Linked DNA regions of Homo sapiens: region 2 is linked to region 1. The links come from fine-mapping of genetic effects on gene expression. Tissue or cell type: unexposed skin. Region 1 holds a variant in brackets; the other region holds the start of a gene. All regions are shown on one strand. Distances are between the middles of the regions.

Region 1 (8,342 bases):
TATATATATTTATTATGTGATAAATATATATTTATATATAATAAATATATAATATAGTATATATAATAAATATATAATATAGTATATATATTATATGTGTTATATATATTACATCATTGATTAATTCAGAGGCCCAGAGAGAGGAAGCAGCAGTGCTCTTTCACAGCTTCTAAGATTACTATTGCACTTCTATTGTATAGGTACAGAATGGATGTGTTAACACTAACCCTTTTGTTACAGTCAAATCTTCTTAACATTTCATTTCCTCCTTGGTCCTGAGGTCTTCGATCTACCCTTGAATGAAGCATTATCAAAGGAGAAAGGGAGTAAGGTCAAGGAAATGGAACTAATATGTTTTGATGTGAGCACTCAGTATGTGGCAAACCCTTTACAACCTGATCATATTTTGGCCTTACAACATCCTTGTATTTGAAAAAGCAGAAGCTCAAAGATGACATGTGGCATGTCCAAAGTCACACAGCTAGCGTCCAAGCTCCAGACTCCAATATCCATGTTTTTTACACTAAACTAAGCTGTTTTCCCTTAAAATGAGTAGCTGTCATTCACATTCTGGAGCATGTGAAAATTCTGTCATGGAGCTGCGTTATGGTTTGAATGTCTGTCTCCTCCAAAACTCATGTTGAAACGTAATTGCCACTGTAACAGTATTAAGAGGTGAGATCTTTAAGAGGTGGTTAGGCTCCACCGTCATGAATAGATTAATGCCATTCATGGGAATGGCATTTCATGGGAATGGATTCCTTACAAAAGGGCAAGTTTGGCCTCTCTCTCCTTTGCCATGGGATGACACAGCAAGAAAGCCCTTGCCAATTGTCAGTCCCTCAGTCTTGGCCTTCTCATCCTCCATAACCACATGAACAAATTTCTCTAATAAATCCCCTCTCCTCTATCTATCTATCTAGCTAGCTATCCCATTGGTTCTGTCTCACTGGAGAACTCTGACTAATACAAACTAGTTTATAGCTTGTCTAAAAACTTCAGAGAAAAGATGTCTTCAAAATATTCTACTCTGAGTAAGAGACAAAGAGTGCTTCATGAAATTATTCAAGAATTCTCTTGCATAGCCAATGTTTAAGAGGCGTAAGTTACTAAATGTGCATAGAACCACTTCTTTAAAATTAAATAAGCAATATTATATGCAAATGAATCTAAGCAGCTCTAGAGCTAAACAATAAACTAAGGGGAAATTAATGCATCATGTTCAAATATTATTAACAAAAATGGAAAAAAATAATAGGTAAATAACACTAATAAAGTGAATTTTTCTGGGCCAGGCACTGTTCTAGCTGCTTTACATATATTAACTCACTTAATATTTAATACAACCCTATGTGTTAGGCATTATTATTATTATTTTATAGATGAGGAAATTGAAGCTCAGACAAGTTACATAATCTGTCTGAGGTCACACATTTATTAAGCAGGAAAGCCCAAAATGTACAGCTATGCAATCTTGCTCTAGATGACACACTCATCCATTACAATGCACTTGAAACTAATGATGTTAAGATTTTTTCTTGCAATTCTTAACTGCTCAAAATCATCCTAACACAAGAAACTTCTGGTTAAATAAAAAAGAAGGCCTCCACCTTTAGAAAAGATGTATGATAATACCTGTAGCATAACAATGAGCAAAAACCATCTTAAAATAAAACACCCAGAGTAGCTCATAGGTTCTAACACAAAATGTGAGTCTAAGTTTCTACAATATGAATTTTCTTTTTGTTCCACATATTCCTATCAAAACGGTAAGAAATAAATTAGTATCGATACAACTCTTCCATTAAATTTCTACAAATATTACCTAAACATAACGAACAGATTTCAATTCTAATCCTACTCAGAATCATACACATTCTTTCTTTGTTATTTCATTTATGATAATTAATTATACATCTTTTACATTGTTAATTTTTAAATTCCCACTGCACGTAGAAGCATATTTTACTGGAGACTTCTATGTAGAAAACTGAATTGTACATTATAAGATCACATGACCATGCATATCCCAGTTTTCATTCTTCCAAATGAGTAATATAAATTCACAAATCAACTTTCTTCATTTGAAAATTTAAGTATCATCCCTATGAGCAAAAGCCCTAACTACTTATGTTCGAAACAATTGAGGGATATGATGCTGATATTTATTATCACATTTATTTTTTGTTCTTGCTATTTTAATCTTTGATTGTTATGGAACATCTTCACTCTCTTTCTATGGTTCAATGGGTTAACAACCAAATAGACATCCATCAGTTTTTAATAATAATCTATTTTTCACATTAAAATTTCATGGAAAATCGTTCATACTTCTTACTGGATGGAAGTTTTTTAAATAGCTCTGAAAATTCACCACCAAAAACAGTCAAAAAAGATTCTATGTAGCAACAGTGCCCTCTGCTGGCTACAGCGTGGAACAGCTAAACCAGGCCTATAAGAAATCCAACAGCTAAGGGGATCTGCCGTGACCCCCGTTTGGCGATGCCGACAATGACCGTTCTGCCCACCTTTTCCCCATTCCAGGTTAAGTAGAATTTGGCTTGATACCTCCTCAAGGGAAGCAAACTCTGTTTAGCAGGCCAGGGATCACATGTGCCCTTTTCTTCCTTTTGAAGAGCTGGTCAAGCCCAAAACCTCAAAAGATTTTAAGAAAAGGCACACGGATTTGAACAATCGTTTCCTGATCTTCTCCAGATCTTTTACAGATCTTCCTCTTACCTCATTTTTCACTGGCCCGCATAAGACAAAAAGAAGCATTTATAAATAAAACCAGTCCATCCCCTACTCCGGAGCTACTTGCCCCCCTTGTCGCCTCCCTTAACGGTAATAGCAGCAAACAATTCAAGATCAGCATTAAATGGCTCTAGGGGTAAGAATTGAAAACCCCTTTTAGCCAGCACCTAACAGTGTCTAGTCACTTACTAGGAGAGGTAAATGGTGCTTCCTAAGTTATTGAGTGTGATCCTCATTAAAGGTGCTTGTATCATTGCAACTTCAGACTGAACTGCCATACCACCAAATACACATGGGAAGCTAGAGAGGAACAAGGAATCTCTAAGCATAGAGGCGTCCCTCTTCTAGAAAAACAATTCCAAAAGCCGTTCCCTGCTATTTGTAGTTACTTTAAAGATTTTATACTCAATTCAATTATTGAAGGGGTTCCTAAATACTAATTAAGGGAGTGCAGTTTCCCCTCGAACTTTGCTTCTGTGGGGATCGGGCGGTTCCAATGCAAAGCTTTGCAACTTGGGGCGGCTGCATAAGCTCTCAGCTTTGGGCTACTCCAAAATCCACGTTGACCCCAGGGCCTCGGTGAACAAAGCACTGGGCTGCGCTACTTGAGGCTCAGTCCCTGCCCCTTCCCACACAACCAGGAAGGCGTATACACAACGAAAACCGGAGGTCTACTACGTGGCACCACGGAGAGGAGGGAATCACTTCAGAGTTGATTAGCTGCGTCGGGGATTCGGGTGAGGCAAGTGAGGCTAAGTCGTTCAAGTGCAAGGTCTGAG[C/T]TTGCCCTTATTTAATATTTCTTATCTAGCTTCTTGCGGAATTTTGGCTATAACTTTGAATTTTAAAGAGACTGCATGAACAGTTTTATCTTGATTACTGAGTATCTTGGTGCCGCCTTAAATTTTGCACCCGAGGCGAGTGCCTTGCTCGTTTTGCCCTATTTACCACCGTGGTGATTGAGTGAGGGCGATTTTCCAGCTACCGAAGGGGTAAAAGATAGCCCGGAGGAGGAAGCCGGGAGCCGAGGCAGGAGCCCTCAGGATGGGAAGGAGGAGGAGGTCGCAGAGGTGGGCTCTGACTGGCTGGCTGCGAGCCAGCGAAGACGCTCCGCTCAGGGAATTTGTGGGGCCGCCAGGGAAACAAGCTTGGTTAAAGCGGAATACGGGAAGGAGTCGGCTTACCGGGTCTGGCTGCTCCGAGCCACGCAATCTCCTCTCCTTAACCGCCTCCCCTCTCTGGGGAGGACTCGTCTCGTCTTTGCAGTGTGCCTACTCCGATGCAGTGCCGTTCTGTGCCACGTTGTCACCCGGCTGCTCTCTGGAGAGACCCGCCCCTGCGGATGGCCTCTCCAGCATTCGTCGGCTCCTGACTCGCCACCCTCTGCACTGGGCGGGGTCGCCCCCTTACCCCACTCCCTAAGGAGGGGAGGGCTGAATGCTGTCACTTCTGACCTAGTTGCAGTATGCCAGGGACTCTTCCTCAGTTACACCACTCACCCCCACCCCCACCCCCACCCCCGCCCCCGCCCCACTCCGTCTCTGCAGCGGAATTAACCAACTCAAGTCCAGAGCGGTAAGAGACCCTCCAAGGGTCTGTTGGTTATTCAATAACTGTAAAAGTCGTGGATGGATTCGATCATAAGGGCGTCAAATCTTAAAACTGGAAAAAACATCCGATTTGGAGAGTATTTAACATTCAATATCTGTCGTGAAAAGTCACGAGGCAAATTAAATGTGGGTTAATATTTAATACCAGTAGTGAATCCTAACAGATACACACAAAAAGAAACCTCTCTAAAGCAGGCCCTACGAATTGCTGCCTGTGCACGCTTGACACCTCCATCAAGGGGTATAAAAAAGCTTTCAGAGGAGGACCGAGTTTCTGTTGTGAAACGGCCTGAAGGAAGCTCAGTTTCACAGAACGCCAGCCTGGGAGGATTTTATTTGCTGTTCCTACTCAATTCCTTTATAAGACCTCAAATTTCTCTGAAGCCCTTCGCAACATAAAATGGCAAGTGCTTGTCCACAGGTTACTCTGAGATTCTTACAAAGCATTTTAAATGGCTTGTTCAACTGAGACTGGCAGCTCAGAATTTGTTCTTCTAGAAAATGGATGTGAAAAACAGCTGTTAATGCCATACAGTTGTTTTAATGCGTTAAAGTGCACGGAAAACAACCAGGCCAGTGAAGATCCATATTTCTCCCAATTCCCCAAAGACATATTTTACTGGAGAAGTCTTGTCTTCAGATATTCAACTTCATTTATTAAGGCCTTAATAAATGAGGATCGGTCAGTACAAGAACAAATATCAGACTTAGCAATTTAGTTCACCCAGTTAAAATTGAGTCTCAGAGAAAGCAGTGAATCCCTTTTGTTTTTAGTTTTTTAACTGAAATTCACATTTAACTGTGTGCTTTCTTTCTGACAAACCCAAGAACAATGCACCAACTACTAGAATTTTTTTTTTTTTTTTTTTTGAGACAGAGTCTCCCTCTGTCACCCAGGCTGGAGTGCAGTGGCACAATCTCGGCTCACTGCAACCTCTGCCTCCTGGGTTCAAGCGATTCTCCTGCCTCAGCCTCCTAAGTAGCTGAGATTACAGGCACCCGCCACTATGCCTGGCTAATATTTGTATTTTTTTGTTTTAATAGAGACGGGGTTTCACCATGTTGGCCAGGCTGGTTTTGAACTCCTGACCTCAGGTGATCTGCCCGCCTTGGCCTCCCAAAATGCTGGGATTACAGGCGTGAGCCACCGCGCCTGGCCTACTACTTGAATTTTTTTGTCTATAGTCTTTAACAAACAAGACAATAACAGATGTAGGCAAAAATATCACATGGATTTTTAGTAATTTATACATGCAAAAAATATACTAACCACATTGAAATATGTGTTATGAGAGTTATAAATATATAGATTAAGGAGACTGCTAATCTGATAGCTAAGAAGTCTTTAACATTAGCCCAGGGATCTGCAAACTACTGCTTGCCAGTCAAATCACGCCTATGGTCATTTTTTGTACAATCTTTCACCTAAAAATAATGTTTACATTTTTTAGTGCTCAAAAAATATCAAAAGAAGAATATTTTGTGACAAGTGTAAGTTATGTGAATTTCAAAATTCGGTGTCCATAAATAAACGTTTATAGTAACCTATTCATGCCCACTTATTTTCATATTGTCTCAAGCTGCTTTTCTGCTAGTGGCAAAGCTGAATAGTTTCAACATAAACCATTTAACCCTCACAGCCAGAAATATTTACTGTTACAGAAGCAGTTTGTCAATCCCTGATATAGATGAAGACATTACCTATAAAGTGGTGTTACAAATAATCGTTAAGTCTGTTAGCTGTAATTGAGTGGGCTCAACATTTTCCTTCTTAGATAAATTATTTGTTTAGCTATCATTTTTCTCACAGTCAAAAGAAAAAGACCATGTTTTCATACACACGAAATGCTGGTAAACTGCAAACCGATGGGATACAGGCTGTCTCTGCTTTTCATGACTTCTAATTCACCCTTTGTCCATTGCTACGCTGCTTCACAAACCAAAATCCTGCTGTGGTTTCTAGAGTCCTAAGCCAATCAGTACTTTACCAAGTGGCTCGCCTGCCATCTAGTGGGGAAAGATAAGAGTGCTCTCTCTCTCTCTCTCTCTCTCTCTCTCTCTCTTTTCGAAAAACTGACGAGGTCGCTATAAGCTGTAGGACCTCAGACAGTGATGATTATAATAGTAATTCATTACATTTTAATGGCACTTTGAAATTTACAAACTATTTCCCAAAGTATAGTATTTTAGTTAATCCTCCCTCACCACAATTCTGTGATGTAAGCACATCTTCTTTGCCATATTTTTTCAGATGCAGAAACTGAGTGTAAACATTGGCTTACTCAAGGTCCTACAGGTGGGCTCGAACCAAACGTCATGCTCTGTTTGCTGAACCTAACACCTCTGAATTTGGGCTCTCTCATTTCTACATTTCCAGTTCTATTCTATGAATGATTTTGAGTCTCTGCCACAAGGACATTTATTTTGGGAAACTCCCTTGAGTAGTCTTTTCAAACAAACAGGACCCATCCAAAACATCCCCTCTCCAACAAATATTCTAAGGAGGCAAACAATTTTTTTAGCTAAAGGTTTAATTAATGTTTATCTAAACATGTTGTTATCTTAGACCCATTTTATGATGCACGACACATAAATTGGGAAGAAGATACTTAAGGCTTAAACCTTGGAGGGCTGTGAGACTCCTGGCAGAATGCCTGCTACTAGCTACCCTAAATCCTTTTCTGATTAAGACATACAATAATTTTTCCAATTCAGTATGAGTTCCAACTTTTGAACCTACAAAACAACGTTTGCTTAGAGCTTCGACAGTGTAAGCCACAGAGTTCTCAAGAAGAGGTCCATTTTAATTGTTCAGTGTCTCAGAAACTTCCAGCTGCTTGTGAATCTGCAAAGGGACCTCAGAGCTCACGTGCTAAAGCTCATTTGAGAGGGAAGATTTGTGGGTGTTTCCAGTACTCACTAAGATGTCTCTGTCTTGTAACAGCAGCCTTTGTGCTTAGTGATGACCAAGTACCAGATTAAATGAACCAAAGGTTAGGGCAACCCATCAGAAAGAGTCATGTTTACACTGACATTCATCTGCAGAGTCTGCAGTTTGGGACACAATGAGAATAGACCAAATCATGGACCAGCTGCTAAATGCAGCTGTACTTGAGTGTGTCCAAAACTACAAGGAGGGTAAATGCAAACAAAAGCAGGTTCCAGAGCTTTGCAGATCATTGTTCCCAGGCTGTGCCTATTTCTTGTGAACAAGCCTCCTGGGACAATATTTTAGTGTTACTTGCAGATAGTCACACTTTCATATTAAACATTTCAAGTTGTGGTGGGAGTGTGAAAACTAAGACACCTGGTACATGGGAAAGAAATAGTTTTATTGCTAGACTTTATGAACAGCCTTAAGTTTAACCACAGGTGAACCTTACTGTTTGCAAGCTCTCCTGATGTGATTTATATCATACATGGAGGAGCTCTTTGAAACTCTCTAGCTCGGACATGACATTGTATTGGTTGCCCAACTTGCCTTGGCTGCCAACATTCTGGCTAGGCCATTTTTAGCTGTTGAGGACCAGATATATATATATTATATATAGGTTGCTCACTGCAACCTCTGCCTCCCGGGTTCAAGTGATTCTCCTGCCTCAGCTTCCCAAGTAGCTGGGATTACAGGCGCATGCCACCATGCCCAGCTAATCGTTGTATTTTTAGTAGAGACAGGGTTTCTCCATGTTGGTAAGGCTAGTCTTGAACTCCTGTCCTCAGGTGATCCACCCGCCTCGGCCTCCCAAAGTGCTGGGATTACAAGCGTGAGCCACCGCGCCCGGCCTATTCAAGCTATTTCTTCTGTTTTACCACATCCCTCACTCCTTTCCCTGTTGAACTTCTGCTTAGCTTTTAAAGCTCACCTCCAATCTGATCTATTTGGTAAATCCTTATCTGAGACCCCAGCTAGAAGTAAACACACTCACCTCTGAACCTACTTTATAGCCCTATGTCTGAGTTTCTTGTAGGGCACTCGGCATT
Region 2 (8,342 bases), 54 kb after region 1:
CTTCAAGCTGTCTCATGAGTCTATTCTCGGGAAAGTCTGTTTCATTGGCAAGAGTCCCTGTGCTCTAGGACGAGTCTATGGTCTGTGGTGAGAGTATGTGATGTCAGGGGTGTCTGTGTGCCCTGGGGAGAGTCTGTTTGCTGTGGGAAGAAGCTGTACACTCTAGAGAAAGTCTGTGTGCTGTGGGGTGAGTCTACTGGCCTTGAGAGTATGTGTGCTTGTCGGGGAAGCCGTGTTCTATGGGGTAAGTCTGTATGCTGTGTGTTTCCTAAAATGGGTTCGTGTGATGTGGGAACAGTGTGTGATGTTGGGATTGTCTGTGTGTCATAGTAGAGTCCTTATGGGGGGGCAAGTCTGTGTCATGCGGGGTGCATCAGTGTGCCTCAGGTGAGTCTCTGCATTAAGCAGTACATACGTGCCTCTGGGAGAGTCTAATGATACGGGGATTGGGGTGTCCATGTGTTCTGGGGAACATCTTTTTGCTGTGGTGCTTGTCGGTGTGCCTTTGGATATGTCTGTGTACTGGAAGGCAAGTGTGTGTACTGTGAGAAGAGTCTAGGTGCTGTGGGGGTAAATGTGTTTGTGTTATCTGGTCAGTGTGTGCATTAAAGGGTGAGTTTGTATACTGCGGACACAAGTCTGCTTCCAGGCAAGTCCCCCTTAGTATCTACAAATAATAATAGACAACACTTACATAATGGTTACTATGTGCCAGACACTGTTCTAAACATGCTGTTAGCATCCCCATTTTACATCTGAGGAAACGAAGAGATTTAAGTAACCCGTCCCACAGTCATGCAACTAGCAAGCAGCCGAGGTCTGAAACCAGGCAGTCTGTTTCCTGTTCTCATACTATTATGATTCCCCTCGGGGCCCTGAGGGCATCGGTGGCCTCAAACCTTAGAAAGCCTTCGTGGTCACTGGTGAGCATATAGAGAGCAGTTAATTTGGGAGGAAAGAAAAGGAGTGGCTAAAAGCCTTCCAAGCTTTATTTAAAAAAAAAAAAATGCTCCATATACAGTAACGATGGCAGTTTAGCTCAGAAAAACTGACGTCATGTCTGCCAAATAACTCCAGCCACTGCGGCCCTCAGGACCCCTCCCCTGGCCCCACAGCCGCATTCTGCTACTGCAGTGGAGCAAATGCGCATGCACTGGCGAGCTGCCATTGCCAGGGAAACCAGCCTCCTCATAAACAAAACACAGTCTAATGCGGCAAGTCAGGAAACTACTGGGACTGAGGCTGTGAGCCAAAGGAGCCCCTTGCAATAACCGCAGGCAAGGCAGCCTCCCACTCACGCGCCATCCTCCCCCCGCCCTTTTTTTTCCCCCCCAGAATCAGTAAAGCTAAGAGGCCCGGTGCAGAAGTCAATAGAGAGAGAAAGCTTCGTTGGGGGCCCGGGAGAGGGTTGGTAATAGGTAGCAAGTGATTTTAATTGTCAGATTTCTCTGGGCAATATTTAACCCATCTCCTACTAAAAAACTCCTTGCCTTATGTCTTGAGCCTTACACCTGCAGTGAAAAGAGGTGGCTCACTGGGGTGTGTCCCTATCTAGAAGAGGTAGTGGCAGTGGTGGCATGGGTTAGGACTCACCCTAGCTCCTTTAAATCCCTACATGAGACTACGGCCAGCAACAGGCTGGCAAACATTATTTACTTCTACTCCTCATACATTTCTTGTATTTCCCTCTTATATCATTCTAGAAAATTCCAAGAACTGAGTCGAGCCAACTTTAACTCTTTGAGTATCTGAAGAGTAAAAAAAAAAAAAAAAAAGAGGTTGAAGGAGGAACTTTAACCCCGGGGGTATTTTTTTTTTTAACACACAATTGGGATATCAGGTGCGCCTAAGAGGAATAGCACACCTGAAACCGTGGTTTCATATATTTGGATTCCTTAATTTTAATTTGCAACAAGAATGTGACAAACTTAACATATTTAAAATGAAAAAAAAAATCCTGTTTAAAATACTGCCCTAATCTGCATGTGCCTAGGATTTTTGAAACGCACAAGCACAAACATGGTGCTCTAGTATGCTGTCAGAAGCTGCAGGAAGGTAGGAGTACCATTGCAAAATGTAACCATCTTGGGTAAAGAGAAAATGGCCGACCTGTGGAAAGCTACACCCTATCTAATGGAAGAACAGTTGTTGCGTTGGATTATTCAATAAGTGATGCTGAAACAATCGGTGACCTATTAGGGGGAAAAAAAATTAAATCCTACTGTATACCATATATCAAAATGAATTCTAGGTGGATTAAGGAGTTAATTGTAAAAAATGAAGCAATTAAATAACTAGAAAAAAATACAGGTGAATACACTAATCAAAGGAAAGAAAAAAATCACAACACTTAAAATGGTCAGATATGGAAATCTAACATGTAAAACTGTAAAATATCAAAAAATCACCACCATAAATGGTAAAAATTAATAGGAAAACAATGGCTGGAAAATAATGTTTATACCACATATAATAAATAAATTAGGTGATAGGTGTTGGGGGGAAGAAACCTTAAATTGTTTCATACCATTTGATCCAGGAATTCCATGTCTACGAATTTTTCCTAGGGAGAAAAAACCAGAAAAGCACACAGATATTTATATGGAAAGATATTCCTTCAGTTATTTATAACAGCAAAAATAATGCACATATAAACATTCAATAATTGGACATTTAGTGGGACATCTATATGATAGAAAATTATACATCCACAAAACACCACATTCTTGTGGAATATTTTAAAATATGGGGAATTGCTCCCAATATATATTTAATGGATCAAACAGGCTAAAAATTGTATGTACATGTGATCTTCATTTTGTATAAAATATATATTTCTATGCATTTATTTGCATATATTCAGAGAAAAGAGACTGACAGTAATAAGATTAATAGTAATTATCTCTAAGTTACGGGATTATGGGTAATTTTTATAATCATCTTTACATTATTCAAAATTTACTACAATGACTATGATATTTTTATAATAAAGGGGAAAACATCATTTTTAATATTTTAGTAAGTGTATAAAAGCACTGGAAGCACAGAGAGGAAGGCGTAGAAGCAAAGACAAAATACCAATATACACCAGTGGAGGATCACGCAAAACGAGCTCATTATGTACTACAGAAAGATTATAGCATTATTTGCATGTCAGTATGTATAGAATGTCTTATACAAGATGGAGTCCTGGCAAATTTTCTTCGCTACACCAGAGAATGGTCACATGTCCCTGGATGCGTCAGTCACTCTCTTTGCCGCAGTGCTCTGTTCAACACCCCCTCCCTTTGCCTCCAGTATGTTCTCTCCCTTTCCCTCTGCAAAACATGCTACCAGCAGACATGTTCAACTTGGGAAAATGGCCCATCTTGAGGACTTTCTTTTAAGCTTTTTCATTCTTATTTTTCCTCCTTGATTGCTGCTGCTTTGTCATCTAACTCAAAAACGAAATCTATTTATCTATCATTTTTCTTTTCCTCACGTTCAAGGGCCAGTTTGAATTTCAAAGGAATAAACCACCACTTCACTTTTTTTTTTCGTTTTTCTTGCAGAAACAGAGCTACAAAAGCTCTGTTTTCAGGAATGTTTCAGAAACAAACATTAAAGCTTCGTTGATAAGAATCTCTGCTATCCATCTCACATCCCTTTTCAAAAAAAGAAGCACCGAGAACACTCTTGTCTTTACTGTATAAATCGCTGTCCAAAAATACAAATTAATTTTTTCCAATGAAAGCACGATCATAATATTCATTATTACTTTTTCATGATTTTTTCATCCTAAAGTCAAATTTTAATGTTTCTCATTGAATACACTTTCATATCTCACATGAAGCAATCAATCTGAACATTATTACAAACTGCCCTCTTCCTCATTTTCTCTCTAGTACAGACATCCCGTCACACGACTTTCTTAATTTAAAAAAATGAGGCATCGTATCCTTTTCTGCATTGCAAAGTAATATTTTTCTTATGCTCTCCCAGCACTGAGAAAATAAACCAGGTTTGAGAACATCTTGAATCATAACCCATTTCATCACGTCAAATACAAATATCGTAAAGCTGAGGTACAATTCTGAAAGCAATTCTCCAATTTAGTAACATCTTCATTAAATCTTATTTTAGGAAATATTTTACAAGAATCACAAGGGGAAAGTTTCTATATTGCCTCCTAGCAACTCCATCATTTAAGAAACAAGCTTTAAACTAGAAAAATGACCAGGGAATATTTAGAATTTAATTAATCCATTTCCCAATGCTGCTGATTAGAATCAGAGATTCCTACACAATTTTGCATTATTCTATTCCCTCAAAACATGTCGCTTGCTTTAAAAATCTTAGTCTGGATATCTATTTTACAAAATATTTCTCAGCTACTTACCAGTGGCATGCTGTCTCCCCACCAGCTCTGAGGCTGTCTGTCGCACTGAAGGAGTGGGGGCAAACAGCAGCGCAACAGCCACTTGGAAATGAGATGTACTCTGAAAAAAAGGGATTATCCCTATGGAAAGAAATGAAATGCCTTGAGATTATCCTCAAAAATTCTCCAAAAACATGAAATCATACTAAACATTATATGCTAAAATGTGCATGCTCTTCAAAGGGCAGATTTTAATAGCTAAACCTCTAATCCAAAACACACTTAAGTTGCCTTGATTTCCAGAGGAACCCCTACAAGACTATGAGCTTTTGGCTCTCCCGTCTCCTAGCAACAGTCTCATTAACTTTTTTTTTTTTCCTGCAGTGGTCCTACTAGGCATCAGAGAACATTGACAAGGTCTAGTCTCTGAGGATGAACATTACCATTTTGTTGTTCAATATGTGTTTTCTCCCAGGCAAGTAATAAGGAAAGTTAGAAATTCAAATAACAAAGTCCCCAGAAGATTTCTGATTCAAATGACATTCCACAATGAAAAGCAGAAAATTTTTTGGTTCCCTCACTTGGTACAATGCTGTCGGTAGAACCCTGTTCTAATATGAATGTGCTCAATGCTACCAAACTGTACAGTTAAAATCAAGTGGAAATTTTTTGTTACATATTTTTCCTACAATAAAAAAGAGAGAAAGAACGATTCATTCACTCCACAAATACGTGTCGTGCAACAAAATGAGGTATTCCTGTAATACCACAGTCAAAATATGGTGGTGGGGACAGGGATTATAAAAGTGAATAAAAAATAGTCCATCCTCCCTTTATAAGTTCATAAGGTAATAATATGCACAGGCTGCAAAATAGAAGTATTTTGTCGAAGTTATTCTTTTTTTCATCAGTTTTGGGTAACGTTATCATTAGAATTGTTACATAATCTGCCCCAAAATACTGGACTCCCGATGGGTGGAAGAAGTAAAGAAACACATATATAATGTTAAAATATACAAACATATATTCGTACATCTCAACTGATCATGCACACTTATCTTTACAGTGTAGCTTTTAGAAAATTTTTACTTCTATTTTCACAAATGTATTCACTTCAGAACAACTTTTCAACATTACATCATTACATAAACTGCTTTTAAAACTAATTTAATTTCTGCCAGATAGGAAATATGTGGCAATCCAGTTCAGTACCTTATAATAAAAAAAGATCAGTACCTTTATTATGTATTTATTATAGGTCAGGCACTTTTCTAAGTACCAGGTGATGAACCTGAAAAGACTAAGTAACAGAACGAGGATACCAACCTTTCTTACTTAAAGCTCAAGCTCCTCATCACATCATTGAATCACAAACATCAGAGTTCTTCTAAATCACCTGGAGTGTTAATTTTTTAAAATGAGGACTAAAGGGACCTATTCCCAAGTATTCTGTTTTGGCAGGCTAGGGACAAGCCCAGAAATCTGTATTTTTAACAAACGTCATCATTTGGTTCTGACCAGAAAACTTAAATATAATCTGTATTATTGGTAATGTTATTGGAGAAGTAAATTCTAAAACTATGACACATACATACATACACACACACACACACACACACACACACACACCACGTGTGTATATTCTGCATGGTTAGAACAAACGAGTAAATGCATTTTTTGGGGGTATTTTTGGAACCAGAGTTCTCACTATAGGAGAAAGGAGATACAAATATGAATCTGAGAAAGTGAAGAGAATCCTAAAGAAACCTTTGGTGACGGATTTGAATCGGAATTTTTAGTATGAACTCATGATTTCCTAAGACAAATCTTACTAGGTCTGTCCACAGAAAGGAGGCAATGACACTCCAGTAGCAATTAATATGACACACCAGCAGCAATGAGTACATCTAATGCCCAGGTATTAGTTTCTAAATACTGTTGTCTACTAAAAGAAACCAAGGTTTACTGGAAAAATAGCTGACGCTATACATGGGGCAGGAAAAATACAAGTGAACTTGAAGTATCTTGTATTATAAGCCAAAAAGCACTTGAAGAATGATGAGAACACATCAAAAAGACACAGGAGATGTCTTGAAAGGGCTCTCACTGGCTAACTCTGGTACAATTTGATCATCAAAAGGAATAATAATGGTCGTTGACTATAAAACATAGAATAAAAAAATCCGTGAGTCCACAGTGATAGTAAAAAAGAAAAAGTGGTAATGGAGAGGGTAACTGCTTTGTTCTAAAAGAATAACAGAAAAGAAAAGAAACTGCTTTTTTCTAAAAGGAGATATATTTGTAAGGAATGACAGAATTTGTAACTGACCATTTAGAAACCTTCAGTATAGGCCGGGCACGGTGGCTCATGCCTGTAATCCCAGCACTTTGCCTGTAATCCCAGCACTTTGGGAGGCCGACACAGGTGGATCTCCTGAGGTCAGGAGTTCGAGACCAGCCTGGCCAACATGGTGAAACTTCGTCTCTACTAAAAATACAAAAATTAGCTAGTCATGGTGGCAGGTGCCTGTAATCCCAGCTACTCGAGAGGCTGAGGCAGGAGAATTGCTTGAACTCTGGAGGCAGAGGTTGCAGTGAGCTGAGATCGCGCCACTACACTCCAGCCTGGGTGACAGAGAGGGACTCCGTCTCCGAAGAAAAAAAAAAAAGAAAAAAAGAAAAGAAAAGAAAAGAAACCATCAGTATAATAACAGGTTTAGGCAAGAATCGTCAATGCATACCAAAACCATTAGGCAAAACACCGGGGAAGAGAATATTCACAGGACTTTTAAGTATTGCCCATAGGCTACTAATTAAATATAAAAGAGAAAAATGTGCATTTTCAATGGAGTGATTTGGAATACCCCTGCCTTAACTGATTAAACTTCATGTCACCAATAATAGCACAAACTGAAATGTGCCTTTTGATGTGATGAAATGGGAAGCACACGTCATCTATTTAAGTACTAGCCAAAAATATTTTATCTGAAGAATCAATCATTAAATCCAGATTGTGGAACAATCTAGAAGACAGCTGGCCTGAACCATCAAACTATTTTTAAAAAGTGGGAGGGCAGGGAAACTATCCTAGATTAATGAAGATTAAAAAGATACAACTACCAAATGCAATGTAGCAATAGGTTAATCATTGGTAAATCTAGGTCAAGTATACACAGGTGTTCACTGTGTTATTTTTTGAGCTTTTCTGTAGGCTTGAAGTATTTTAAATGAAAAAAAAAATTAATGGCCTGGCGCGGTGGCTTATGTCTGTAATCCCAGCACTTTGGGAGGCAGAGGCAGACGGATCACCTGAGGTTAGGAGTTCAAGACCAGTCTGGCCAACATGGTAAAACTCCATCTCTACTAAAAATACAAAAATTAGGGCCAGGCACGGTGGCTTACACCGATAATTCCAGCACTTTGGGAGGCTGAGGCAGGTGCATGACCTGAGGTCAGGAGTTCGAGACCAGCCTGACTGATATGGTGACACCTCATCTCTACTAAAAAATACAAAAATTAGCTGGGTGTGGTGGTGTGCGCCTGTAGTCCCAGCTACTTGGGAGGCTGAGACAGGAGAATTGCTTGCACCCAGGAGGCGGAGGTTGCAGTGAGCCAAGATCGAGCCACTGCACTCCAGACTGGGCGACAGAGCGAGACTCTGTCTCAAAAACAAAAGAACAACAAAATTAGCTGGGCATGGTGGCAGGCACGTGCCTGCTATTGAGGAGGCTGAAGTGGGAGAATCGCCTGAACATGAGAGGCAGAGGTTGCAGTGAGCTGAGATCGTGCCACTGCACTCCAGCCTGGGCGACAGAGTGAGACCTCACCTCAAAAAAGAAAAAGAAAAAAGAAAGAAAAAGAAAAAAATTATTAAAAGGTAAATTTAGAAAATAAAGAGGAAAATACTTTCAGAAAAAGAATTATTGCACAATAATTATATTTAAAGTTAAAATTCATATACATTTTGAAATTAATGATAATCAGG

Which allele goes with the higher level. Positions count from the first base shown, and alleles are read on the strand shown. Sizes are in standard deviations (SD) of each study's normalised expression.
For the expression in unexposed skin of the gene that starts at base 4,425 in region 2, C is the high allele of the variant in region 1 and T is the other (large effect, 0.77 SD a copy in GTEx).

The links.
Region 2: it holds the start of LINC00632, and the variant in region 1 is fine-mapped to the expression of LINC00632 in unexposed skin (GTEx, PIP above 0.99). The same link has a PIP of 0.9 or more in sun-exposed skin.

What each region holds. Positions count from the first base shown.
Region 1 is chrX:140,760,292-140,768,633 of GRCh38, reverse strand. All of the region lies in intron 3 of LINC00632 (long intergenic non-protein coding RNA 632), which reads right to left. Among named protein-coding and RNA genes, the nearest start is that of LINC00632, 55 kb to the right of the region's middle. The variant C/T (reference allele first, on the strand shown) is at 3,534.
Region 2 is chrX:140,705,842-140,714,183 of GRCh38, reverse strand. LINC00632 (long intergenic non-protein coding RNA 632) reads right to left here and starts at 4,425. Exons shown (of 5, transcript NR_173140.2): 1 at 4,379-4,425; 2 at 2,528-2,563.